4 separate regions of the Homo sapiens genome follow, and regions 2, 3 and 4 are each reported to be linked to region 1. The links are microRNA targets in miRTarBase. Many come from high-throughput screens and were not tested one by one. Region 1 holds a microRNA gene; each other region holds the end of a gene's coding sequence. Distances are from middle to middle.
Evidence for each region. The annotated mature microRNA hsa-miR-4775 reads UUAAUUUUUUGUUUCGGUCACU and lies in region 1 at 3,157-3,178, opposite strand. An mRNA with a match to its seed (bases 2 to 7 or 8) in the 3' UTR can be bound and repressed. Matches are read on the target gene's strand: a 7mer-m8 pairs with bases 2 to 8, a 7mer-A1 pairs with bases 2 to 7 and ends in A, and an 8mer does both.

Region 1 (7,119 bases):
CCCAGACTCCTATCAAATATGTTTCAGGTATTCTGTCTTGTAATGAAAATGTGAAAGTTCAATTCACAATATACCAAAGTTAATATTCTATTGGGGTCTGTATTATAGTAGTTAAAAAAAACCTACAAATGAAAATAAATTTGAGTCCAGGTAATCAGCCCTTTTTTAAAGTCTCATGTTAGGGAACGAATCTTCCCTAGGTATAGAACTCTTGAGAAAAATGCCATAGTTACCACCCCACTAGCAACTTGGTTTCCATGCCCCATTTGTCAGAGAACCTACCTGCTTTTCAGTGACATTTATACTCTTTTCCTCAACTGACCCAATTTCCCATTTATCAAAGTCGCTGTATTGCCTTCTAGAATTAAAAGTCAAAGGAAGAGAGCAGCTTAGTGATACTTATTTTACCAACTTGTTCTTCAAGTCACAGATTCATGTCCAATGTCCCTCTCCCAACTTTTAAACCTTTGGCCAAATGTGTCAGCATTTCTGCTTATAACTGGCATATCACAGGGTGCAAACCATCTTATAAAGTGACGTATGATAGATTTTTTTCCTAAGTTAGATCTTTTATCCTAGTCGGCAACTTATCAAGACACAGTGATCAGTTAGTTTTTGTTTTTTTGAGACACAGTCTCATGCTGTCGCTCAGGCTGGAGTACAGTGGTGCGCAATCGCGGCTCACTGCACTCTGCCTCCTGGGTTCAAGCGATTCTTGTGCCTCAGCCTCCTGAGTAGCTAGGATTACAGGCGTGTGCCACCACGTCCCACTAACGTTTTTCTAATTTTATTTCTTTTGAGCCGGAGTTGCAGTGTCGCCCAGGCTGGAGTGCAGTGACGTCATCTTGGCTCACTGCAACTTCCGCCTCCAGAGTTAAGGGATTCGCCTGCCTCAGCCTCCCGAGTAGCTGGGATTACAGGCGTGCATCATCACACCTGGCTTTTTTTTTTTTTTTTTTTTTAAATAGAGACGAGGTTTACCATGTTGGCCAGACTCCCGACCTCATGTGTTGTGATTACAGGCGTGAGCCACTGCACCGTCTTTTTTTGTAATTTCAATAAAGACGAGGTTTCACCATGTTGGCCAGGATGGTCTCAAACTCTTGGCCTCAAGTGATCGACCCACCTTGGGCTCCCAAAGTGCTGGGATTACGGGCGTGAGCCACCGTGCCTGACTGTGATCATTTACTTAAATATTTGACTTTAGGTAATGAAGAATTAAAGTGGATGAAAATATTGCAATGCTATCAGGATTTATTGAGAATTGCTAAAGCTGAGTGGCTAGACTCTTAGTTCTAAAGAAACCTAATAGTGACTTGGTATATTTTTAACTGAAATGTAAGCTTGAAAATAGCACATTAAAGTCAAATTATGTGGCTTAAGACATCCTCTCAACAGCAACACAAATTCTAGTTCCTGTCTTTCCATTCTCTTTCCTGTTTGTCTGAAAACCTCAAATACCTCTTGTTCTAATTCTACGCTATTCCTTTAATTCCTTTCTCTTTGATACATTTTGCTTAATTTTATATTCTAATGTGCTTTTCCCTCTCAGACACGATAACCAACTATTCAAGATGCCATCTAATGCACTATGCCATTAAGTATTGTGGTCAGTGATTTTAAGTGTAATAAATTATCTTCAGGTTGAAAAGAGCATATGCAAAAGAAATGGATCACTACATCTTAACTAGAGGCATGGATCAAATCAACTTATGGTTGGTTTGAAAATGCTTTAAGACATATCAGGATTGACTTAAAACTAGGCTGGGCAGAGATGTAACACTATGTGGATAGAAGTGTTACAAACACACTAGCCATATTTTAATTAAAATAGAGTTTATTAGCTTTTAATATAAACATGAGAAATAAAAACCACATAAATTGTAGCATTCTTTTCAAAATAAAACTGCAATCAATACTTGAATCTCCAAACTCTGAATTCCATAAACAATATTTGTTTTTTTGAGGTGGTAGATTGTAATATTTGTATACCATTATTTATCATTTATGTCTCTGTCCTTTAAAAATGATGGAAACTGCAGCACAATATGATGTGAAGCATTGCTATAATAGAGGAAGTACTCCTGTCCCAGAAATGCTTTGTTTATAAGCAAGATTCCTAGGATTAGATTTGAGAAAGTAGGAGAAACAGATTTCACATAGTTGAGAACACTAACCTCTTCTTAGTATTTCAAATTTAGGTGACATTATCGGTCTCCTAAAATTATTTGCTCCTTGCCTTTTAAAGCCTGAAGAGTTCCTAAGGGTTATGTAAGTATTTCTTAAATAGCAGGACTTAATGGGACACCTACAGCTTGGTAGCATGTAGGATGATAAAACAGCTGTTCATATCACCTTCTATAATTAGGGTCCAATTCCTTTTATTACATGTTAATTAACACTGCTCTTCAAAATCTTCCTTTAAAGAAACTGCGGTAATCAAAGCATATAGAGCACAGCTCTGCGGGTAACTACTTTTAAAAAGAGGGCATTTTATGGAGATACAAGGTATTCCAAAAGTTCAGTGTAATTTTAAGCTTTGATACTTGTAGAAATATAAATGCTACAAACCTTTACAAAACCTTGTCTGAACATTTTTCTTCTGCTTTTTTCTTTGAGACAGGGTCTGGATGTCGCCCAGGTTGGAGAGCAGTGACATGATCATGGCCCACTGCAGCCTTGACCTCCTGGGCTCTACTGATCCTCCCACCTTAGCCTCCAGAGTGGCTGGGACTACAGACACATGCCACCATATCCAACTATTTTTATTATTTTTTTTTACAGGCAGGGTCTCACTATGTTGCCTAGACTGGTCTTGAACTCCTGCACTCAAGCAATCCTTCCACCTCAGCCTCCCAGGGTACTGAGATTACAGGCATGAATCACTATGCCCAGCCCATTTCTTTTGCATTTAATTTTGCATTTTTCTAAGAGATGGGGTCTTGATAACGTTGTCCAGGTTGGAGTGTAGTAGCTATTCCTATAGGCACCATCATGGTACACTGCAGCCTCCAATACTTGACCTCAAGCAATCCTCCAGCCTCAGCCTCCCAAGTAGCTGGGACTATAGGCGTGCACCACCACACCCAGCTTCATTTTGCAAATTTTGAATATAAAGCTTTTAATTTTTTGTTTCAGTCAATGTCTGCTATCAAGAGTGACCGAAACAAAAAATTAAAAGCTTAATATTCAGGAGACAGGTGCCAGTTGCACTTGTAGTCCCAGCTACTTGTGTGGCTGAGGCTAGAGGATGGCTTGAGACCAGGAAGTTCTAGGCTGCAGTGAGTGCACAATGATTGCACCTGTGAAAAGCCACTGCACTCCAGCCTGGACAACGCAGTAAGACCCCCATCTCTTTAAAAACAAACAAAACAAAACAAAAAACTTTCAAATCATGTTTTTTAAAGGTTTATAGCATTTATACTCATGCTGCAGTGCCTTGGAGGGCCCAAACTATATTCAAGCTTAAAACTGCTTCACTTTTTCTCATCGTCACTGAACCACCATGTTGGTTGGCATTATGAAAATATCTTTTAATACATTTATTTAGCAAGAGAAAAATTATCAGAAAATGAGAAGCACCATTTATAGTTCACAAGAAATGCAACATGGACTCCAATAGAAGTAGATATCAATAACTGATACTTCCTCTGTTTATGACCCCAAACATGCTAAAATGCTAAAGTAATGCTTGCAAAGAATATGAATGACAAATGTTATCCAGCAGCTTTTTGGTTTAAAATGATTGCCAATGACTAGCAGCTTCAATGGTAACAGTAGGGAGGAAGAACCCTTCAGTACCTAACAACGCTGCTGTCTGCTCCTAAGTGGCTTTAGTTAGAGTCCCATGTTTTAATGGTAATACTGCATTGATTTTAAAGGCATATGCAGCAAAATGCGGGGGGAGGGAGAGAAACTGGAAGAAACATAAAAGTTATATGGTTAGTGTCTTTAAAGTCTAAAAATTTAAACTATTGTTTAAAAAACCTTACATAGTTCACAGCTATCGGCCCACACAGTAAGCAAATATCTGTGTGTAGGATGGGAGCCTTCACTTTGGAGTGGTTTTTGTAACTCTGTTTACATTAAAAAGGACAGAAGAGTGTTTTGTTGCATTGACAAGGTCCCATTCTTTCCTGTGGAGTATAATCCTTGTTGTCCATGAGTCTCTTGAATTTGAGATCTTTCCTTTTGATGAAAACACTAATTTTGCTGGTTTTTGAGCAGGAAAGGTGGTATTTCTCCAGTCTTTGTAGATGAAGGTCCCATGACGTTATAACCCCTCATTTCTCCTTTTAAGAGAGGATGGCTTTAGAGCGCTGAATACCAATGAAGTTATCAGCACTGAAAGACCTTCTCATAGCGGCTCTACACAAGTCTTTGTCTTCACACAATCTAGAAATAGCCTAGGAAAGTCAATCAAATAGAAAACAGGTACAATTTTAAAAAGGGTTCCCGCCTTTGAAAGAGCACCATTGTGAAAGCCACACATGTGGACTCCTTTAGATAGTTCACAGTTACAGCTACTTTGGCTGAGTTTTACACTGCCAGGTTGTGGGGACACTACTTCCTGACAGTTCACCAAGGTAATATCCTTTAAGGGCTATGGTTAGATTCCCAGAGAACAAAGGGGAATTTATTATATTATTAAAAAACTGGATTCCCAAAGATATCAAAGGTATTGTGATAGGGCTCCTAACAGCAATAGCATCTGTTATCTGTTAACTTATTCCTTAAATATAACAAACGTACACTTGTGCAAAAAAATGTTTATTCAGCTATTCAAATTCTACCCAATCCTTATTAGCTATTATATACTCAAAGCACATTTTAATGAGGCAGGTGTGTGCTGGACTATACTGGAACATATGAGCGGTCTGATGACTGACGCGCCAAAAGGTATTACTTCACATGCACGTTAATTATGGTAGAAATACATATTATTATTTTTTTCTTTTTTTTTTTTGAGGCAGAGTTTCGCTCGTTGCCCAGGCTGGAGTGATCTCAGCTCATTGCAACCTCTATCTCCCAGGTTCAAGCGATTCTCCTGCCTCAGCCTCCCAAGTAGCTAGGATTACAGGCATGTGCCACCATACCCAGCTAATTTTTTGTATTTTTAGTAGAGACAGGGTTTCACCATGTTGGCCAGGCTGGTCTCAAACTCCTGACCTCAGGTGATCCCGCCTGCCTCGGCCTCCCAAAGTGCTGGGAGGAATGAGCCTCTGAGGCATGAGCCACTCTCAGGCATGTGCCACTGAGCCCAGCCTAGAAATACATATTATTCTAAAGTACCACCAAGGTACCACAGAAAGTGTTAGTTTAAAATATGTGTCCATTTCAGTTGTAATTCTGCTGTATACTCACCAAGAGTCATAAGCCATAAATATTACTTTGCCCCATAAAGTTACCATTTCTATTAAAAACCCATGTACTTCCTACATTATTATTTTTTTTTTTTTGAGACAAGGGTCTTGCTCTATCGCCCAGGCTGGAGTGCAGTGGCATGATCTCGGCTCACTGCAGCCTCCGCCTCCCGGGTTCAAGCAATTCTCATGCCTCAGCCTCCTGAGTAACTGGGCGTCTGCCACCACGCCCGGCTAATTTTTGAATTTTTAGTAGAGACCGGGTTTCTCTGTGTTGGTAAGGCTGGTCTTGAAGTCCTGATCTCAAGTGATCCACCTGCCTCGGCCTCCCAAAATGCTGGAATTACAGGTGTGAGCCACCATGCCTACCACTTACATCCAGCATTTGAAACACCTGCATCCTATACAGTGAAGGGTATAGGTCTCTTGGCTTATCCACTAATCCTTTGTCTAAAAAACTCATGGGACTGCACTGTGATACATAAACCATGACATGAATTTGCAAACAGTAAGTAAGACAGTCAAGAGTGGCAAGTGAATTATGTATGTAGATAAAATTAGGAATACAGTCGCAAAGAAAAAATTTTTTTTTTTTGGAGACACAATCTCACTCCGTCACCTAGGCTAGAGTGCAGCGGTGCAATCTTGGCTCACTGCAACCTCCGCCTCCCAGGTTCAAGCGATGCTCATGCCTCAGCCTCCCAAGTAGCTGGGATTACAGGCATGCACCCCCATGCCTGTATTTTTGTGTGTGTGTACTTTTTTTTTTTTTTTTTGAGATGGAGTTTCGCTCTTGTTGCCCAGGCTGGAGTGCAATGGCACGATTTCAGCTCACCACAACCTCCGCCTCCCGGGTTCAAGCGATTCTCCTGCCTCAGCCTCCCGAGTAGCTGGGATTACAGGCATGCGCCACCACGGCCGGCTAATTTTGTATTTTTAGTAGAGACGGGGTTTCTCCATGTTGGTCAGGCTGGTCTTGAACTCCCAACCTCAGGTGATCTGCCCTCCTCGGCCTCCCAAAGTGCTGGGCTTACAGGCGTAAGCCACCGCGCCCGGCCTGTGTGTGTATTTTTAGTAGGGACAGGGTTTCACCATGTTCGCCAGGCTGGTCTTGAACTCCTGACCTCAAGTGATCTGCCCACCTCAGCCTCCCAAAGTGCTGGGATTACAGACATGAGCCACAGTGCCCAGCTAAAAAAATTATTCATGTATGGTTATGTGAAAGGGTAGAAGTTCAAAAGGAAACCTCATTAACAACAGATTAAATTTGATTTAAAATATTCTGAATTATGGTCACAGAAGAGTTAATATGTATAATTTTTAAATAATGTTGATCCTTGTATAAACCATACAAGACACAGGAAATCTGACGCCAAAGGGCTAATAAGCTCTTCAGTGTTAGTTAATTTTAAAGCTTTCCATTTTCCTAATCACTACTTAATATGATTTAGTCACAGATGTTGGCTTTGGTGGCTGATGGAAAACCTCACTTAGTGACTTCATAGCCTTACCTCTAGGTTCTGTGCTCTTTCTTTGCTAAGAGGAGCAAATAGAAAATTCAGGTTGTTGTCATCTGCTAAGGAGCGAAGGTCAAAGTAGTATTTGGCATAAACACTGGCAGGAACATTAATATTAAACTGAAGAAGCTCCAGAAAATGCCTTTCCATTTCATTCCTGGAGGAGGAAGAACACAACAGAACCAGCACAGGACAATGTCAGTCAACTGGGCTATCTTCAAAAATATCATTCTAAGAGA
Region 2 (7,119 bases), not on the chromosome of region 1:
GCTGGGACTCCCAGCCCCAATCTGTTCTCAGGGACGAGAAGTCCTGGCTGAGATCCACGCAGCTCAGGAAGGTGGTGACCCCAGGCCATGGGTCCCGCTGAGGATGCCTGGAAATCCGCATCAACCCAGCTGGCTCAGGTGGAGATGGAGGCTCCGGGACAGTGTGGGATGGGAGGAGGGTGAGTAAATGCCAGGCCCGGTCCAGGGCCTCTCCCTGGCCTCCAGCCTGCAGCCCACCCTAACCCTTCCTCAGCAGGGCTGATCACTATCAGGGATGGCCCAGGTGCTGTCAGAGAAGAGGGTGAGCCAGCTGTGTCCTGTGTGCCTGTGACAGGTCCCAATGGCAGGAACTTCAGGCAGGGAGGCAGAGATCCCACACAGTCCTGTCACCATGGCAGGGCAGGTGTGTGACCCGGGCGGGTTCACGTGCGCAGCGTGGAGAGGAGTGTGCGCTGGGTGTAGGACAATGGGCGTGGCAGGTGGGGGGAGGCACAGGTGGGTGGGTGTGACAGGCACACAACCATCACTGCTGAGCACCTCCCTACAAAGCGCCAGGGGGCCCAGGGCTACCAGTCCTGAGGGCCCACAGGGGGGCTGGCATCCCTGGGGAATCCTTGGGCCCTATGCCCTCCTGGCAGCCCTGTGACACATGCCCCAGGTCTGGGATGGTGGCCCAGCAATGCCCTCAGGGCCAGGGAAGTGGGTGGAAGGAGAGGAGCCGCGTCCACACTCCTCCTGAGTTTCCTGAGCACTCTCCAGGATCCCAGGCCACCCTGGGGTATCCGGCCAGGGACTAGGAACCTGGCAAGGGCCTGGGCCTGAGATAGGTGAGCTCCTTCCACCACCTCAGGCCTCAGGGCCCCTCCCACCTCTGAGCCCCCACCCAGGCTGGCTCCCAGAGTCCCCCATCATCCCCATGAAATGTGTGCACATGCCCCTCTCCCAGGTCCCCACCAGCCTCTAGGGAACACGCCTACCATGGGGGCGGGGTGGGGGCAAAGCCTCCAGAGCTGGGCTGGGTGGAGGCTGCAGGTGGCCCTGATGCTCCCCCCTCTCCCAGACCTGTTCTTGATCCCCACCCCAAGGTTCTCCTGGGCCCCACAGGCTGCGCCTACTCCTAACCCTGCAGCCAGCAAAGCCCTCACCCCTCCCGAGTGTGGCACCGGAAGTCCTTGCTGGCCTCCTGGCCAGATGAGGGCTGCCAGACCGGACGAGACAGGACCCCGTGATGGGGAAGGGCCTTCTCTCGGCCTCTGCTCACGAGCTAGAGACCAGCCTCAGGGTGGGGCTGGGTGGGAGGGATGAGCACAGCTGCACCCTACCCAACTCACCCCAACCCCCAGTCACCCTCTGGCCCACACTGCTCCCCACACCTCTGCCCAGGTCTCATAAATCCTGCCCAGTGGCCCCTCCCCACACAGCCCCCCAAGAGCAGTTCCACTTGGGATTGTCATGGTACCTGCAGCTCAGCAAGCTGACATCTGTGCTTCCCACCCCAACAGGGGCAGGGAGCCCGGATGAAGAAAGAATGAGGGCAGAGGGCACCCCATGCCCAAGACCCACCCACCCCAGGACCCTCCAAGAGGCCATCAGGGCGACGCCAACACACACACAGACACACACACACACACACAAACAAACACACAATTACACCCCACAGTGTGGTCACTTACAGGAGGTGAGCCTTTTCCACTGGTGGGTCAGGCCTCAGTGGGGTCACTGAGAACCCACCAAATCCTCCCAAATCCCAGCGTCAGGGCTCTGTTGGTCTCGCTCCAGTTCAATCCCTCTCTCCCTCTCTCTCTGCAGCTTATCCTGTCTCCGTATCTTTCCCCCTCATTCTCGGAGTCACTCAGTCTCCCTCTTAAACAACAGGTCTCTCTCCCACTCCACCTCCCACCATCTCTCCCAATCTCTCTCATTCATTTTCTGAAATATTCAATCCCTTTCACACACGACTTTCTCCGTCTCTCTCATTGATACACACACTCTCCCCCCATCCCTGTCTCTCTCTCACACACACACACATGCACACACACACGCACACAGGCAGACTCAGCCCTCCAGGGTCTATGTCTCTGAGCTGAGCCCCGCTGAGAGGCAGGCTTGTCTGGGGATTGCAGGGAGCACTCACGCCCACATAGGATGTGTCCACGTGGACAGCGCTTGGCCCTTTATGTACCCACTGTGGATCCTTCACTAGGCAACCAGGCTGGACTTGGACCAGTGCAGGTGGAACTAAGCCAAGACCCTGAAGGCCAGGGCAGGGTCAGCTCCAGCCTCAGCACTCGCCCTAATCCAGGCACGGTGGAGAGTAGCGTGAGCCACCAGGCGGGCCCAAGCTGAAGAGCTCACCGCATAGCGGGGACAGGGATGGCAGGAGACTTGCCACTCAGACCAGGGAAGGATGACAGGGACCCCAGGCACAGGCACAGGTGTCAGCAGAGACCACATCAGTGGGGGTCCCCTTGGGCAGGTGGGGGGTGGCATCCAGGGCTGGAGGGTCACAGGCCACTGGCATGGCTCAGCCCAGTTCTCACACAGCATCCTCCATCTCTATAATCATGGGGTCAGTGTCACCCCTGGGCATGAAATGGAGATACTGCTGTTGGCAAATGAGCTTGGAGAGCAGAGGCCAAGACTTCTGGGTGTCAAGTGAGGTGTCACAACTGGGGCCTGACTTCATAGAGGCCAAGGTTTCTTCATAGAGGAAGAAACCCCGGGAGAGTGGCTCCCACGGAGGGAACTGCCATGCACAGCTCCGGGGGAGGAGGTGGAGCAGTGGCCACCAGCCCTGACAGAAGGCAATGCGGGGCCCAGGGGCCCAGAAAGAAAGGGCAGAGTGTGGCCTGGTGAGGCCACTGCCCCAAGGGCCTATGCAGTCCCTTGACTGCGACCTTTGACAAAGTGTGTTACTTGGGTGGGGTTGGGGGGACTCCAAGCTGTGATGACTCAGGCCAGCTGGCAGGAGCGTGCATGGTGACCGGGATGGAGCAGGGTTCAGTGAAGCAACCCCATGGATATAAGCACAGGGCCCACCATGGCACATGCAAAGGAAGGGGAGGAGAAGGACCGGGTTGGCAACAAGGAGAAACCCGGCTCAAAGCAGGTTTGAGGGAGGAAGCAGAGAGGACAGTTCAGAGGACAGCTTTGCAACTGACCAGTTAGAAGGCAAAGGAGCCCAGGCCAGGCACGGTGGCTCAAGCCTGTAATCCCAACACTCTGGGAGGCCAAGGTGGGCTCGCTTGAGGTCAGGAGTTTGACACCAACCTGGCCAACATGCTGAAACCCCCTCTCAACTAAAAATACAAAAAGTAAGGCCAGGCACAGTGGCTCACGCCTGTAATCCCAGAACTTTGGAAGGTCAAGGCGGATGGATCGCTTGAGGCCAGGAGTTCCAGACCAGTCTGGCCAACATGGTGAAACCCCGACTCTACTAAAAATACAAAAATTAGCCAGGCCTGGTGGCGCACACTTGTAATCCCAGCACTTGGAAGGCTGAGGCAGAATGCTTGAACGTGGGAGGCAGAGGTTGCAGTCAGCCCAGATCACGCCACTGCACTCCAGCCTGGGCGACAGAGCTAGACTCTGTCTTTAAAAAAAAAAAAAAAAAAAATAGCTGGGCGTCATGGGGCACACCTGTAGTCTCAGCTACTGGGGAGGCTGAGGCATGAGAATTACTTGAACCCTGGAGGCAGAGGTTGCAGTAGGCCCAGATTGTGCCAACGCACTCCAGCCTGGGCGACAGAACGAGACCCTGTCTCAAAAAAAAAAAAAAAAAAAGCCGGGCACAGTGGTACACACCTGTAATCCCAGCACTTTGGGAGGCTGAGGTGGGTGGATCGCCCCTGAGGTCAGCAGTTGGAGACCAGCCTGACCAACATGGTGAAACCCCATCTCTACTAAAAATACAAAATTAGCCGGGCGTGGTGGCGTGCGCCTGTAGTCCCAGCTACTCGGGAGACTAAAGCAGGAGAATTGCTTGAACCCGGGAGGCGGAGGCTGCAGTGAGCCAAGATTGTGCCACTGCACTCCAGCCTGGGTGACACAATGACACTCCGTCTCAAAAAAAAAAAAAGAAAAGAAAAGAAAAAGCAGCTCAGCTAGCAGGAGAGAGCCAGCACCGGAGCCTCCACGCCTGGACTTTACTCTCTGGCCCCAGTGGGATCACCTCCTCCAAGAAGTGGCCCCTGGTCCTGCTGAAGGCCCCACTCTAAGATGCAGCGCTCTCCACGCTGTGTAAGTCCCTGGCTAAGGCTCCCTGACCACCCCTGTACTTGCCGGCTCAGCCCACCAGGTGGCGCCCGCGCCATGCCTCGGCCCTGCTGGACTCCGAAGCCGCCACTTCCCTGCGGGCGCCTCCTGGTGTTTGTTCCCTTGGGCTCGGCCTGGACAGCCCTGCTGGTTCCCGGAGCCTAGCCCAGCCCCGCGAGTGATTCACAGAACTCACACCTGACGGTGGGGGAGGAAGGGGAGAGCAGCAGCCAAGAGGTGGGTCCAGGCTCTCCCAGGGGCGAGTGACTTCAGTCCAGATGTCCCCTGAACCCCTGGGGATTCCGCATCAGGACCAGGGCCTCCCATGTCCAGACCCCACATTCCCGTCAGTGTGTCCCGGGGAGCACGGAGGGACCTCCACACTGCATTTCATGGGGCGACCGCCCTTAACACCCGGACACACACGGAACCCCACACTACCCTAAAGTCTGAAAGGTGGACACGCGTGGCGAAGTTTTAGAGGAATTTCAGGACAAAAGTCCTGAAACCACAAGGTTCTTACCACCTGAAAACCAGCTCCGTAACAGACAAACTAGACACTTGTGAGTTTGCCGGCATTTGCTTTAAAAATAACAAGGCTGGTCCAAGATCTTAGAAGAAAATTATATTCTTTTAAAGAAAATGAAAATATCCTCAAGGGAAAAACTTAATTTAAGTCAAATCTTGTCCTTTTGTCGTGGAGCCCCTTGCCCCGCGCGCAGACACAGGCTTTCCTGAAGCGTGGCCAGGGCGCCCCTCTCATCGCTCCTGAGCGTGACCCGGGGCTGGAGCCGCACGGGGATTTTCCCGAGCTGAGCAGGGGGGTCGGGGGGCCCAAGCCAGGAGCCCTGGAAGAGGGAGCAGGGCGGCAACTGGGGCCGCAAACACCCATCAAAGTCCCCAGGACCAATTCCCACAGACACCACGTGGCCACAGGCAGTGCCCTTTGCAGGCCCCCTCCCCAAGGGTGTCACCCCTCACCCCCTCCTGGGACCCCGCCTAAACCAGGCACCCTTCCACCCACCAGCAGGAACTGCGCTAGGAGATGCAGGAACACCCATGTCCCCGCCAGCCCCGCCTTCCAGACCACACCCTGCCCGGGAGTGCGCTTTGCGAGGTCGGGGTCGGGGGGGAGGGCGGGGGCCAGGCCCCTGAACAACAGACAGCAGCTCCCACCCAGCAATGCAGCCGGGTCACCTCGCACCCCTGGCCAAGGCAGGGGCCCTCTCCAGCCTGGTGACCCACGGCCTACCCTGAGGCTGCAGGGCACAGGGGGCCTCCAAGTGGAAAGCTGGTGATGGGGTGGGTGGGAGGCAGGGCCCGCAGGGAAGTGACTTGAGCAGGCACAGACGGTGAATAAATAGAAGCTTCCACGCGGGGGTCCGGCCCCTGCAGACAGCAGCTCGGTGGGAAACTGATTGGAGGGAGCTCCCCTGACGCTGACCAGGGCCACCCACGCGGGCCCTCCCTCCACACCCACACCCACCCCGGCCCAGGGACGGGTTTTCCCCTGCTCAGAGCTCAGTGACGTGCACAGTGGGTGAGGGAAGAGGCCCAGGTTGGAGGCGCCGCAGGTGGCAACGACGACACAGTAGGTGGCCCGCCAGGGGATAGCAACGGCGTCCCTCCTCCCCGCTCAGCTGCAGCCCGCAGTCCTAGGGAAGAACACAGCCCCCAGCCCCAGAGTCAGCAGACAAGCGCACATCAGAGGTCACGGGACGGGGGAGGGACGGAGGGGAGGGGCAGATCTGCAGGGTGCCGCAAAACAACATGAAGACTCTTCCGCCGGGCGCAGGGGCTCACACCTGTAATCCCAGCACTTTGGGAGGCTGAGGCGGCTGGATCATCGCTTCGGTCAGGAGTTCGAGACCAGCCCAGCCAACATGGTGAAACCCTGTCTCTACTAAAAATACAAAATTAGCCGGGCATAGTGGCACATGCCTGTAATCCCAGCTCCTTGGGAGGCTGAGACTGGAGAATCACTTAAACCCGGGAGGCAGAGGTTGCAGAGAGCAGAGAGCCTGCCATTGCATTCCAGCCTGGGTGACAACAGCGAAACTCCATCTCAAAAAAAAAAAAAAAGACTCTTCCTCTGCCAGAGGGGGTATGGGAAGCCCGGCGTGGAGCACTGGAGACTGGAGCTGCCTCTCAGGTATCCAAGAGGAAGTCACTGGATATAAGTCAGACTGCGGGGAGAGGGCTGAGCAGTCAACATGGGTGTCAGCATAAAAACCTGATGGTTTGGGTGTTTTTTGTTTATTCGTTTGTTGTTGTTTGAGACAGGGTCTCTCACTGTCACCCAGGCTGGAATGCAGTGTCTGGATCCCAGTTCACTGCAGCCTCGACCTCCAGGGCTCAAGTGATCCTCCCACCTCAGCCTCCTGAGTAGCTGGGACCACTGGCGCACCCTGCCACGCCCTGTGAATTTTGTTTATTTTTTGTAGTGATGGGGTTTCATGTTGCTCAGGCTGGTCTAGAACTCCTGACCTCAAGTGATCCTTCACCTCGGCCTCCCAAAATGCTGGGATTACAGGCATGAGCCACCGTGCCTGGCCTGTTTTTTGTTTATTAGACAGGGTCTCACTCTGTCGCCCAGGCTGGAATGCAGTGGTGCGATCTCAGCTCACTGCAGCCTCAAACTCCTGGGCTCAAGCAGTCCTCCCACCTCAGCCTCCCAAGCAGCTGGGACTACAGACATGTGCCACCATGCCCGGCTAATTTTTTTCCCCTTGTATTTTGTAGACATGGCGTCTTGCTATGCTGATCAGGCTGATCTTGAACCCCTGGCTTCACAACCATCCTCCCACCTCGGCCTCCCAAAGTGCTGGGATTGTAGGCGTGAGCCACCGCACCCAGCCAAACGTG
Region 3 (7,119 bases), not on the chromosome of region 1:
TGCCTCTACCTAAATGGGAATCACCATTCCCCTCTCAGAGAGATCCTCAGGGCACCTTGTTCTGCTTCCTGCAGCTCATCTCACCTGGCCCCCGAGAAAGGGACTGCAGAGAGGTTCTGTTTGTTCTGGCTAGAAAAGCAGGTTCCTCCTTGCTTGTCCCTGGTTGTAATCCCTAGGTTTCTGAAACAGGATTTCTGCCATTGCTCACTTGCCAACAGGCTGTCCTGAAACACCAAGAAAGGGCACTGGGAAACTGAGCTGGGGAACTATATGCCCTAGCATGGATAGGCTGCACTGACAGGAGACCAAACCTGGCTGGGGATGAGCGAGCACAGGGGCCAAATCACACAGTGGCCACCAGTAGCTCAGTTTCCATGGCAACGTCTGGCTTCTAGAGATGGAGGCGCCTATCTGGGAGAAAGTCTGGCTTCCTCCCATCCTCCTCCAAGGTAGGGGTCTTCTTCTCTGGCTTGAGGAAGCTGCTGAGGTCCCTGCCAGGGGCCATCTGTGCTGGCTCACCTGCAGGAGATGAGGAAGTGGAGCAAGGGGACAGTTCTCCAACACTTGGACTAAGAAAATGCCCAGCTCCCTAAATCCATCCACAGCCACATCCTGTGGCTTTATCCTTGCCAGGCGTCTGCCTCAGGAGGGAGACAGAACAGATGCTAGAGTTCAGAGCTCCTGAAATGGTGATGCTTCCAACTGGCTCTAAAAAAAAAAAAAATGAAACTCTTGGATGGAAAATTACCACCAGCTCCATTAGCAATTAAGCAAATGAGAAGAGGCTGACTTGAAGCCTCAGGTGCCATTTCAGGTTGTCTAGAGGAGTGGGTAGCTGTCAGGAGGGAGTGTCAGGAGATACCGGGGGACATTGCCAGGCAGGCATGGGGCAGGGAGGGCAAGTACACATGTATGTAGGTTTAATTTGTTTTATGCACAAGATAGAAGGCTAAAGGTATGTGTAAAAAGTAAGTTGTTGGCTGGGTGTGGTGACTCACACCTGTAATCCAGTACTTTGGGAGGCCAAAGTGAGCAGATCGCCTGAGTCCAGGAGTTTGAGATCAGCCTGGGCAAAACGTAGCAAAATCCCATCTCTACAAAAAATACAAAAAATTAGCCGGGTGTGGTGGCATGTGCCTGTGGTCCCAGCTACTAAGGAGGCTAAGGTGGGAGGATTGCTTGAGCCTGGGAGGTCAAGGATGCAGTGAGCCTAGATTGTGCCACTGTACTCTGACCTGGGTGACAGAGCCAGACCTTGTCTAAAAAAGAAAAAAAAAAGCTGTTGACAGTCTAGGTCATAGAATCACAAAATGTTAAAGCTGGAAGGAGCCAAAGCTGTTGACAGTCTAGGTCATAGAATCACAAAATGTTAAAGCTGGAAGGAGCCTTAGTGATCATTTGCTCCAAATTCATTTTACAGTGGTCAGTCACAAAGCCAAGCCGGGTTGCAGATTCCCAGCTTCTGAGGCAATGCTCTAGACATGAGTCAATTTTATACGCAGGAACAGTGCTTGTTATTCGAAGCATTTCAATGGAAAGTCCATGTATAAAGTGACTCATGAACTCTGCTTCCCTCTTCCATTTCTCTTTTACATCAATCCAGACTCTTAAGTATGAGTTTTGGGTTCAGGTGGGCCATATTCATAGTTACCTGTGAAACATAGTCTGCATAACATTCGACTATGTGGGATAAAACCAACTGATCCTACTTTATTATGAAAATTTAAATGCTAGTTGCCATTACAATAGAATGTATGTGTATACATAATATAAAATAGGGAATTATGTGCAGACTTGGAAAGCAACGACATCTCATGGCTTTCTTTATGGATTGTTTATCCTATTTAAGAACCTTCTATTTTAATTCTGTGTGACCTGGCTAATTTTCTACTAGCTTGAAAATTCAGGCTCTGCCCCTTGCTTAATCCCTCTTCCTCCAGAGGCCAGGGCTGTAGTGGCCACCAGGAAGGCTTAGGATGACAGGACTCCAGGAGTGCCCTTGTCCCTGCTTGCCACCAGGAGTTCATGAGTACCACTGGCTGCTACTAGACCCTTCCATTGATGGAGTATTTCTTTGGGGAATGTTAAAGAAAGAGAAGTTAGTAGTTTCCACCAAATTTTTCTCCCCAGCAATGAAGCCAAATCCCTGAAAAGCTTCACCCAACCTTGGCATTCCTAATTGTATGTAGCCTCTTTGATTCAGTACTCAAGCAAGGCCACCAAGGTACACACACATGCACATGCACAGAGTACTCTATGACTCACTCCTGGGTATATATCTTAGAGAAACTCACACAAGCGCACAAGGAGACATGCAGAGGAATGTCATAGCAGCATTTCTTGTAACAGTAAAAAAAAAAAAAAAGAAAAAGAAACATGTAGATATACATCAACTGCATAGGACTGTGGCATATCCATACAATGGAATATCATACATCAGTGAAAAAGAAATAAACTGGAGCTGCATGTGTCTGCACAGATGAAACTGAAATATTTAATGTTGAGTGAAAATAGTGTGATACAATTTAAATGAAGTTTAAAAACACTTTATGGAACTCAGGGCTTACAGAGACATGTAATAAAAGTATGAGGGAATGCCTGGGATGATAAACCCCAAATCCAAGGTCATGGTCTTCTGAGTAAAGGGCACTGAGGGTACTTCAATTGTAGTTGTCAAGTTTTATTAAACATGGCAGTGGCTCATAAGTGCTTATCAGATGATTTCTTCTGCATTTTATATGCCAAAATATTAGGTAAAACGGAAAAAAAGAAAACACCAGGCAGCTGACCCTGTTGGAAATTTTTTATTTACCACTGCAAGGTTTTTGCTCCAAAGTGTCACACCAGACATATGACTACAATGTCTCATGCATCTTTTTGTGCTTTAGTTCATGACTGCAAAACACACACTTAGCATTTGACAACAGGAAACACAGAGGGCAGAAACAAATCACAAGGACTAGTTGGTTTAGGTTACAGCCACATTTTACCCAGGACTCCTTTACATCCAAGAGAAATGGACCCTGAATAACTGGTCTCCTAGCTGATTCTCTGTGCCCAGCTTTGTTTGGAGTGATTTGTCATTCAACCCACACAAAAAGTTGTATCTCAAATCAAAATGGACAGACATATGCAAGGTCTTAATCAATAAGTGCTCAACAAATAGATATTGATTTGGTGCAAGAGGTGGAATCACAGATTAATGAGGGCAGACTCCCGATTTTCTATCCCCGTAGAAATCTCTGAAGAAAGAACCAGATCACCTTTTTGAGCAACAGTGCATTCTGAAATGGTCTCTCACCTTATTTTTACCTCTACCTCACACCCTTTTTAGAAATGCTCACTGGCATCACACAAGGTGTTCCTTTCGAAAATGATGAGATACTTCACACAGGCTCAGTTACTATAATTTGATAGTAAATTGGAAATGTTTCTGGTACAAGGTAAGCTGATGCAAAGACTACTGAAATATTTTTATTTGGCAGTTTGACATCTCTGGATAATTTAAAATTCACTAAGATGGAGTTTTAGTGGAAAAGCAGAGCAATTATATTCTCTTCATCTGTTGATTACATTTACATGGAGAGCAATGAGTTGCCATTAGGCAAATAGTAATACTCATTGTCATGAATTTCTAGCTTGACTGCTAAGACATCTGATGCCTTTACCATTGAGAACTCAGCTAGGACTTTAATTTTTATGCCATTTGCAGTGTCTTTTTCTGCCTACTCTGCCAGCCACTCTTAATTCATTAATTCACTCAACAAATATATATGAATATATATGGAGCACCCATGAGACAGCTTTATCCCAGGCACTTAGAATACAGTGAACATAACAGACAACTCTCCTTCAAAATGTATCTCATTTCTGTAATCCCTGCTAAGTGAGGTCAAGGCTGACATCTAAGATGTTCTGTGGCGGAACCTGGCCCCCATCAGGGGCAACCTTTAATTTGGATTCTGGAAGACTAAAACTTTGAGATCCCTCCCCCGCCCCGCCCCCCCAAAAAAAAGAAGAAGAAGAATGAAAGGATGCTTCATGACCAAATGATGATGGGTGGAGTTGATAATTCTGGGATCGGGGCCCCGCCCAGCCCACCTGAAATTCCTTTGATGGTACTATAAGGCAGCTGCACAGATTTATAAGGAGCCATGTTTCCTGATTTTTGGTCTAGAATCCAAATTTTCTAGATTGGAGTAGTAGATGTTACCAAGAAGAGAATGCTGGTCAGCTTTCAGCTTATAGGAAATGTTTTGTTTTCTTTTACCCACACCAACCAAAGAGAAGAAACCAGTATGGTGAAGAGATCTCTAAAACATTTCATAGGAAGCCACTAACAAGTGCTTTGCCTACACAACACTTGGCAGGGGCTGGCCAACCTCAGTGATGAAGGTTTCCAATTATCCAAAAGACTTCTCATGAAAGAGGGATTCGATATTTTTTCTGTTTTTTCAGAGGATGGTTAGAAGTTATTTCTAATGCTTTTCTATTTCTGTACAGAAAGAAAAAATAATGACCACAGGTTATAAGGCTCCTGCTCAGATTCTCAGGGAGAGGCCAAGTATGACTTGACTTGTTGAAGGAATGAAGCCCTTACCCATCTTGTCCAGAAATTCTGTCTTAGGGAAGTGGATTAGGGTGACATCTGAAGGCCCAGAGTTTTAATATTAATAGAGAGGGGTCCAAAGGCAGAATCCATGGTTCTGGAAATGCCACGATGCTTCTGGCACTTTCTGGGCATTCTCAGCTGCCAAATTAAAGTGAAAAATAGGCCGGGCGCGGTGGCTCAGGCCTGTAATCCCAGTACTTTGGGAGGCCGAGGAGGGTAGATCACCTGAGATCTGGAGTTGAAGACCAGCCTGGCCAACATGGTGAAACCCCATCTCTACTAAAAGTACAAAAATTAGCCAGGCATGTTGGTGGGCACCTGTAATCCCAGCTACCCAGGAGGCTGAGAGAGGAGAATCGCTTGAACTTGGGAGGCGGAGGTTGCAGTGAGCCGAGATCGTGCCACTGCACTCCAGCCTGGGCAACAAAGAGCAAAACTCCGTCTAAAAAAAAAGGTGAAAAATAGTAACTTAGCTTAAAGATGATCTGCTGGTGGCCTCAGAGTTTGTTTTTAGCCAGAGAGTGCCTACAGGTTTTGAACACTATTTCATCTAGTATATCATTCATTGGGGTAGGCTTCCTAGTCATTAGTCCTATCTTACACAGCTGGCCAAACAGGTGCTGAAGGGCAATGTCAACAACAGAACCCAGGAATCCTGGTTCAGGTGTAAGTACCGTATCCACTCAGCAAGGCTCATAATTTAGATTTAATTAACAATGTGGACATCTGTTTAGAATAACAAGGTAGGAATTCAAAACCTAGCTGCTGGTTATTTACCCATTCAAGTGAAAACAGACAGAGGGAGGCACAGTTGCAAAAGACCTGATTTCCTTTTTAAAATTATCTTTCTTCTCTACCTACATGTAGCCAGATGTCATAGACTAAGTCAATAACTAAATTCCTCCTGAAGTGACTGGAACGCTGAGAAGGGACCGGTCTATCTCAGAGTCACTTTGGTGATGCTGGTGGGTGTGACATCTAGCAATCAGAACCCAGCCAATGACTCACAGGAGATCCCACCTGTACTTTGTTAGGGATGGTCTCCCCAAGGATAATAGAAACTGATTTTAAGATAAAAACAATAAAATTCTTCAATAAAAAGCACAAAATTCAGTCCAAGAGCAGGGGGCTTATGAAATGCACAAATTAAAGTATTAAGAATTAAAATAATTAAATTAAAAAGCTGAGGCCCCAGATTTCACCCTGATGGTTGAGGTGTCCAGCATTGGAACTGGCTGCACCATGGTTTTGGGACTCCATCAAGGACTGTGGCCAAAAACCTGTGTGGAATATTGTAGAAGGAATTTCTCCACATACAGTGCTCCACCCTCTACATCAGCTTGTTAAAAAGGAAGGCTCCTGGGCTTCGACCAGGAATACCGACTAGGAATGTCTCCAGGCGAGCCCAGGAATCTGCTGGTGACTCTTCACATGCTAAAGTTTGAGAACTGCCGGGTGACTGCCCTGCATGGTGAGCTTGATTGAACGCTGGCTAAGGTTTCTTTCCACCTGGGCAATCTCTAACTCTAGGAGTTGATCCAGGATACTTTCACTTCCTTCATCATTTTTGAAATGCTTGTTTTTCAAAAAGCCAAATTCTTCTTTGCATCCATGATTCCCACATTTAGCTTTCTCTGCATCTGGCCTAACCCCACCTATAAAACAGGCATAGGAACTGTATTTAATAAGCACCTCCTTCAATAACACAGATGAGCAAAATGCATTCCTCAGTGTGACCCGCATATTCCATTTCCTGCTCTGTCTTGCTTATTTCTAAGAAACAAGAGTATGATGAGAGAGCCATCCCAGCCTTGCAAACACATCTGTCACTGTCTTCTGGGTGTCAGAATGAGGAAAGGGGCACAGAAAGGAGGTTGCAGAGGACGGGTCAGGGCTGTCCAAGAAGGGAGGCAGCTGGGCAGCTGGTTACAGGTGCAGCTGGTGCCACATGGCAATCTGCCGGCGAGGGTTTTTGAGCATCTCCTCCCAGTGGCTGCGCTCAGAGCCCGAGGTGTGCAGGCCCAGGCTGCAGTGGCCAAGCGCACAGCTCTGCCCTGAATCGTCCTGGCCCAGCACTTCCAGCTCCACACTGGAGGCCTGCAGCAGGTCGTCAGGCAGCTCAAACATGATCATCTCGTTCCACACGGGGTTGATCTTGTGCTTAGCTCGTTTAGTCTGCTTCTTCTTCAGCTTCCGAGCCTGGTGCTTCAAGGTCACCTTGACAGAGACATCTGGGGAGGGGCAGAGGGGAAAAAGAGACAGAGAGAAGGGACAAGAGTGAGTTTCTGGGATCTGGCAGGGCCCAGGACAAAGCTCCCTCCTGGTGCTGGAAAGATGCTCAAGAGTTCGGACATCTGTGCCCCATATACCCAAACATCTTAGAGGCCTCAGTTTTTCCTTCTGGATACCCCAGCACAGGTCCCAAGTCTATGTGACCATAGAAGGCTCTGCTATACCAGCAGGAAAGCATCCCACCCGGACAATCTATAACTCTAGGAGTCGATCCA
Region 4 (7,119 bases), 11 Mb from region 1:
CTGCCGTGCAGAGTGATCGAGATCGGAGTGGCTACATCTTCTTTTATATGCACAAGTAAGAAACTTTGCCAGATTCTAAATAATGAGTTAGAAATCACCGGAACTCTTTTTTTTTTTTTTTTTTCCTTTGAGGATAAAATGTTTCCATCAGTTGATTGGTTGAAAATTTTTGGTTTTTATCATCTTTGGTTAGGGTCTATCTCTTGATATTTCCTTGTAAGTCCAGAATATTTTCTCTCATAACTCAGCATTAATTGCTCATTACACAGTTGTATCTAGGTATGGAAGTTAAGACAGTTTGTTTTATGATAGAAGATGTCCTGTCATAAATAGTTTTGGTCATCCAGTTTTATCAGCTAGAAGATCTGATTTATATGGATGGGAATTACCTAGCATGTTCATTAAAGCTAACTGTTGTCAGTTCCCCTCTATTCTTAAAAATCAGCATTCAAAGGGTTAAGATCAAATGAGTGAGCTGCTTTTTAAATAAAATACAGGCATGAAATGGAATTGTGAAGGCCTTATCCATATCAATTTTATTTTACTTTTTCTCCTGCCTATTCTTTGGTTCTGCTTACTAAATTTCCAGTTTTATTTTTTGCTTGTTTTATCTTAAGGGAGATCTTTGATGAGCTGCTGGAAACAGAAAAGAACTCTCAGTCACTTAGCACGGAAGTGGGGAAGACTACCCGTCAGGCCTTGTGAGGAACAAACTCCTGGGTTGGCAGCATGCACTGCATATTTGTTACTGCTGCCCACCTCACCTTTCCTCTGCTGAAGGAGAATTTGGAATTCTACTTGATGCGGGAGCAACAAACAGCTCAGGGCCAAACCAAAAGACAAAAATTGGAGTAACGTAGAATGCTCCATGCTATTTTATGGAAACTTTGGTCTCACATCCGTAGCTGATTATCCTCTTTTTCTCCTATGAGTGGCACTTCTTTTGTCTTAGGAATACATGTTGTAAATATATATCTGTGTATGTGTGTATACACACACACAGACACACACACACACACACGGGATGAATGGAGCCTTAAAGAGTTAGGATGAGCCACCAGAATATGCCTGCTCAAAATTAATAGCACAGCAGTTTGGAGAAGAAATGAAGGTGTCAAAGAGTCCATTCACCTGAGAAATGTGTGAAGACATACTTATCAGTTGGCTTTTAGCTTTTATGTTCCTTGAGTAGTTTCACTCAAGTCTGTAACCTTTTGTGTTTCCTTATTAGTAAAATTCACTGGAAAGCCAGCTCTTCATGTTACACTAATGACAGTTTGTTCTCTTTGCAAGAGAGGGGCATTACTGTCACCTGACTTGAGGAGCTGTTTTGTTGTTGTTGTTGTCTGCAAATTTCATGAATTTGTGATGTCTTTGCTGTTTACATGCAGTCCCAAGAAATGGATTGTTGGTGCTTTGGAATATGTTACAGTCCCACATTTGATATTTCTTATATACTTTGTTTTCTCTAAGGAGATTTCTTCACACAGTATGTTCATCATATATCATCATCATTATTATGGTGGTAAAGATAGAATCTTTTTTCTTTTTTGTCATTCTGCCATGGAGCAGCATTACCCTAATGGATTGCAACCAAAACTTTAAACAAGTAGAAAGATAATATTTCTCCAATTGGGACTCCCCAGCAGGAATACTTAGGGATAAGGAAGAATGCTAGCATCTCTGTCTCTCAAACATAGGGAGGATAAGAAGAGTGTTCTTCTGGTAAAGCTAAAATTCTGGACCACTGAAGCTAAAAGCCCTATTGCAAGTATGAAATTAAGTACTTGAGCTGTAGGACAAACCTTGGGCATTTAACCATTTACTGTCTGGCTTTGCCCTTAAAATAGGGTTGCAATTAAAATGTGATTGGCTTAGGTAATCCCAAAAACTAACAAATAACAAAGGTGCATAATTTATTTATCTACTTTTTAGGTGCTCTGAGTTGAGGCAAAGTAGAGCGGCAACATTAAGTGCTATGCTAGTCACTTAGCTGACGTAACCAGCTTGGTTAAGCAGCTTATGAAACCATATAAAGAATTCTTTTGAGGATGGAATTCTGTCCACAAAATAATTTTGTGAGCCCAGATATCATTAGGATCACACAGAGTTAAATATAGAAAAATGAAACCATCATTATATTCTTTCGTGTTTTTTCTTTTATTATAAACAAGGGGATTATTCTTTAGTTCTCAGAGGTAGGGACAAAACCACATCAGGTTTTCAGAAGGAAAAAACATTTAAAAACCCACCATCACATGAGAGAATCACTTGAACCCAGGAGGCAGAGGTTGCAGTGAGCTGAGATCGCATCATTGCACTGCAGTCTGAGTGACAGAGTGAGACTCCATCTCATTAAAAAAAACGAAAACAAAAACAAAAAAAACACAAACCATCATCACAGAAGATGCAACATCTTTTCTGAAAGATTGCCTTAAGAGAGCTCCAGTCCTACTCTTGGAACTTGGATGTATTCTAATGTAGTAAACTATTCTAAGTTTTCATTCTTTGAATTATAAATGGCCTCAGCAGTTTTGCTCAACTACTGATAAATGCTTTGCCTCCTACCATCTACCTATATACCTTATTGTAATGAATGTTCCAAAATGGTAGAGTGGTAGAAAACGCCAGAGTAGTTTAGAGCAGAGGAAAATATTTGTTTTAAAACTAGCTTTAAAGTTTTGTTTCATTTCTACCAGGAGCCTCTTTGGTTTGGTTTGATTTTGCTTGGAAATAATTGGTTTTCTTATAAATGAGTGAAGCGGTGATAAAATTCTTTGGCTAGTTATTAATTCTTTTACGTGTCTTTGCATTTGAGAGGCACTGTTAAAAATTATTGGGAAAGATTTAAAGTGCAGGCTGCAATTAAAACATGGAGAAAAGTAGAAATAATGCCATAAGTCTAGATTGCCTCATGAAGCAGCCTCATTTGAATTGCTTTCATAGCTTTCATGTGTGTATGGTTTAGAAGTACACTTACCTCAGAAACCTGATTTGATCTTCATGTCTTGGGCAGGAGTTGTTGAAAATAGGTTATTGGAATATATAAGTTATCTCACTGCTCATGTACTTGCATGTTTGGGACTCAAATTTTACTTGATGTCTGTCCATTCTTGTGGCCCTATCAGCCTTCTCCTTCCTTTACTCCTTTAATCTACTTCTTTGACTACCAGTGGAGATTTCAGCTGGACTATGTTGATGGGGTTTGTTGTTGTTTTTGAGCTGGCTGTATATATTTTAAAATTATAAATAGATAATATATTATTTTTTGCACATTGTGATCAGTTTGCCCAGAATTGGGGATGGGGCAGTTAGCATGTTGGGGCCAGGAAGGGACAAGTTAGATAAGGACTGAGTGCTTCCGTTGCAGGCAGTTTGCACAATACCTAATTAACCTTCCTATTGAAAATACCAAATGTGTGGTTACATTACTTTAAATGACATTGAATTGGAACTTGATGGCAATTAGTTCTAGATACAACCTTTTGATCTTTGTTGGAATTTTAAGGGAAAAATGAACTAAACTTCATATTTGTTGATTTTAATCACCTAATAGTACTGAAGGTTGGAAAGTTGCATGTGGCTGGATGCTGTTAATTTCTTTAATAGCCATGACTATAATTTAAGCCTATGAGAAGATAGACTGTTTCGTAGGGATATATTCACATGTGTGTGCACACTCATGAGTTTTGTCTCAGCAGGATAGAATAAGCAAATCCATGAACTGGTCTTCTATTAATACTTTGATTCTAAAAATTATTTGTTTACTTGCTATGGTCTGTTCATTCTGGGCCTAACCTTAAAGGCTCAATAACAAATACAACAAATGTAAATATGTTTACATTTTAAGACATATGCAGTGGTTCTTACAGATCAGTTAATTAACTCCAGAAAGCAAATGTTAGACTACACATTTATTTTTCTCCTTGATCAAGTATAAAATTCTGAAACAGAGGCTTTAAAATTTAAAACCTCAGCAAAATAATCCATGAATTTACTGATTCTTCTGTATCGTGTGTAGTTACCATTATGTAACTATACACACATACAGCTACGGATATAATGAAAATTATCTGCAAACACCTAAATTAAAGAGAAAAAAAAGTAGTTTGTAAACTCATTTGTGATCTACTGAAAAGAGGTTATATTAAAGCAAATTAAAATATTTTCCTTCTCTGTCCTCTGAAATGACTGCAGTAGATACTCTTAGTTATCCCATTTAGGGTGGTTGGAGGGCCTTTTTAATTTAATTGACCCCCCGAGGTGGTCTTTTGTTTTAAACAGGGGGCAACAGCTGGATCTCCAAGTACATATGGATTTTGTATATATAGGAGATTTTTAGAAAAATCAACAACCTAACACCAGATTCAAGTCACATAAAAGTGTTCCAATAAAATGGATGGATGTCTTTTTCCTCCCCATTTTGCTTTATACTGAGTAATGCACTCTTGCAAGTGTATACAAAAACTAAATAGACTTCTGCCCTCCAACATCTTTTTATTGCATTACTTCAAAATCCTAATTTTGTCTCTACTGATATGTCTTATTAACATCTGAAAAAATATATATTTTTTATTGGAAAATTCTAATTTGTTAGGCCTTGAAAGTTTTGTGACAATTATTTTGCTGTGTTTAACCACAATCATTCACCTTATGGCATGCTTTGATTACTAGACTTCAGGCAGTCTCATTCATTGTATCATACTTACACACAATTAGTAAGTTGTCTCCATGTGTGCTATATGTCTGAGGTGTATGGAGTTTTTATTTAAAAAGTGTGCCAGTCTGAATATAAGCATTTGATTTTGTAACATTGGACTTTTCTTAAAAGTACAGAGGTTCAAAGTATAGGTATGTCCATTGGCATAAGAATAGAGTGGGTGAGGGTCTGGACCAGGTTCCAGGTTGGTCCAGTCAGATGCCAGAACAAAGAAGAACAGTCAACTAAACTGGTCTACTTCAAAAATAGTGGGCCTGTGTGAAGAGTGAGACCACATGTGGGTGTGCACACCTCTTGTCCCCAGGTTTCCCTCCCTTTGAGCTTTTCTTTCCCTCCCTAACTTCTCTGGCCTATTGTCATTGTTGTTTCTTTAAACTTAAGGAGAGAAAAACAAAAATGAGATTCCTACACTTTGCCTAATTGAGCCACTACCAGGTTTTCTGGCAGCTGTGGCCACATTATTTGTGAGATGATTTTTTTTCTTTATGTTCAGAGTGACTTTTGATTCTGATTCTTTATGTTTTGTATGGAGCGGCACTTTTATCTGTGTTTTAGCAGAACTGTTCCTCTGTATCCTTTACGGTTTTTCTTTGTTTTTGTTTCCTTTTTAAATTATGCATAGAGTTTTTTTGTGTGTATGAAATTAAAGCCTTTATTAACCTTCTTTGATTTGACTGTTATTTCTGAAAAGGACACATTCTTGCTGATACTTGTAACAACCTGTTCAAAGTTGTGGAAATCACCTTCTGTTGGCTTTCTGACATGGACTTCCTTGCAGCACTGTTACTTCTTAAAAGGAACAGAATGGCAAACCAGTGTCTGGCCGTAGTCCCCATTGATTCCTGTTATTTTCATCTGAGGAGCCTGTGAAGCTTTGCAGAGGCTTCTGGGTAAGTTTGTAAACCTAGCATTGGCCTTCACTAGGCTCTTGCTTTGCCTCATTATTAAGGGTTGGGAGAGGGAGTGAAGTAGCATATGCATTTCATACTTGCCTTTAGGTCTCAAGCCTAGCCCCAGTGGAAGTGCTGCTCTCACTGGTACTGTTTGGAATTTGTGAAACCTCTTAAGAGGGTAGTCTTGTGGACCATTCAACTCTCCTTCAGCCCTTTAACTTACCCACTGAGTAAGGCAGTAAGGAAAGTATATGTGAAAAGGAAAAGCTGTTACTCTGGGGAAGATGTAAACCTGCAAAGTGCTTCAGCCTACCTGCCATAGATAAAAATGAGTCATGATAGAGGACAAGCTAGGGTAGTGCCTCAGAACTCTAATGTTCCATGGAGTGTTTGTGCTCTTCTAAGAAGAGAAAACTATAGGAGTATTAAAATTGATGCAATACCTCAGGATAGAAACAATCTAGCGACCTTAGAAGTTGAAATGAGGACCATAGGCTCCTTTTGGGGTATCATCTTTCTGAAGGAATAGGTACATTATTAAACAAAACTGGCATTTGCCACAGAAGTTTGTGCTCATAGGCACATCTGCAAAATTTCACTTCAATTGGTGTAGGACTAATATCGGTGAGAAAATGAGACCCTACAATCAGGGTAGGGTACTGCTTTACAACCACAGCTACTCTTCTCAAAATAGTCCTTTTTCTTTCTTGAGGTTTTGTTGCTTCCATCGAGGCAGAGCAGAGAAGGCAGCTGGAGTCATCCCAAAGGCCTGAGTGAAATCTTCAATGGACAGGTGTTCCTAGAAGAAGAGAGGGACCAGAGGGCAAAGGTCACATATCCTTCCTTCCTCCCTCACCCTCAGGCACCGTTTGCTCTGATGAGTCATAGATGTGGTATATAATCAAATAAATGAAGAGTAAACAGAAGCAGTGTCAGGAGAGCCAGGAAAGGGATGGAGAGGAGGAGAGTATGGTATTTTGGTATTCCAGAGGTTTATCCCTGATTTTTTTTTTTTTCCAGACCATGTCTTGTTCTGTTGCCCAGGCTGGAGTGTAGTGGCATGAACTCAATTCACTGCAACCTCCGCCTCCTGGTTTCAAGTGATTCTCCTGCCTCAGCCTCCCAAGTAGCTGAGATTAGAGGCATGCGCCACCATGCCCTGGTAACTTTTGTGTTTTTAGTAGAGACGGGATTTTACCATGTTGGCCAGGCTAGTCTCGAACTCCTGACCTCAAGTGATCCACCCTACTTGGCCTCCCAAAGTGCTGGGATTACAGGTGTGAGCCAGCACACCTGGCCTGATCCCTGAATTTTTAACAATGAAAAAGATAGTAGTGTGGTAGATTGAGATTTTCTTTGTACAAGGGTCAAGTTCACATTAGCCCAAATAAGAATTAGGACTCCTCTTTCCAAGCCTTAGTTTCCTCTCTATTAAATGGGGAACTTTTTTTTTTTTTTAAGACAGTGTCTTACTGTGTTCCCCAGGCTGGAGAGCAGTGGCGCACG

Region 2: miRTarBase lists WTIP as a target of hsa-miR-4775. Seed matches in the 3' UTR shown: 7mer-A1 at 4,922-4,928.
Region 3: the mRNA of SYT13 is a reported target of hsa-miR-4775. Seed matches in the 3' UTR shown: 7mer-A1 at 3,951-3,957 and 8mer at 3,691-3,698.
Region 4: the mRNA of USP37 is a reported target of hsa-miR-4775. Seed matches in the 3' UTR shown: 8mer at 1,075-1,082, 7mer-A1 at 1,777-1,783, 7mer-m8 at 2,830-2,836, 7mer-m8 at 3,240-3,246, 7mer-m8 at 3,753-3,759, 7mer-m8 at 4,066-4,072 and 3 more.

Annotation. Positions count from the first base shown.
Region 1 is chr2:207,750,875-207,757,993 of GRCh38, reverse strand. It overlaps MIR4775 (microRNA 4775), which reads right to left and starts at 3,187; the gene lies at 3,113-3,187. CCNYL1 (cyclin Y like 1) reads right to left here. Exons shown (of 10, transcript NM_001330218.2): 9 at 6,875-7,037; 10 at 1,820-4,406. The coding sequence ends at 4,296.
Region 2 is chr19:34,498,919-34,506,037 of GRCh38, reverse strand. It overlaps WTIP (WT1 interacting protein), which reads right to left. Exons shown (of 8, transcript NM_001080436.2): 8 at 1-5,909. The coding sequence ends at 5,769. Among named protein-coding and RNA genes, the nearest start is that of WTIP, 21 kb to the right of the region's middle. RefSeq lists enhancers at 1-286, 287-787, 1,798-2,619, 6,880-7,119 and a silencer at 4,169-4,228.
Region 3 is chr11:45,237,514-45,244,632 of GRCh38, forward strand. SYT13 (synaptotagmin 13) reads right to left here. Exons shown (of 6, transcript NM_020826.3): 6 at 2,789-6,843. The coding sequence ends at 6,539. Among named protein-coding and RNA genes, the nearest start is that of SYT13, 45 kb to the right of the region's middle. RefSeq lists an enhancer at 6,118-6,618.
Region 4 is chr2:218,448,516-218,455,634 of GRCh38, reverse strand. USP37 (ubiquitin specific peptidase 37) reads left to right here. Exons shown (of 26, transcript NM_020935.3): 25 at 1-55; 26 at 618-5,384. The coding sequence ends at 705. It overlaps VIL1 (villin 1), which reads right to left. Exons shown (of 20, transcript NM_007127.3): 20 at 2,340-6,412. The coding sequence ends at 6,299. Among named protein-coding and RNA genes, the nearest start is that of VIL1, 33 kb to the right of the region's middle.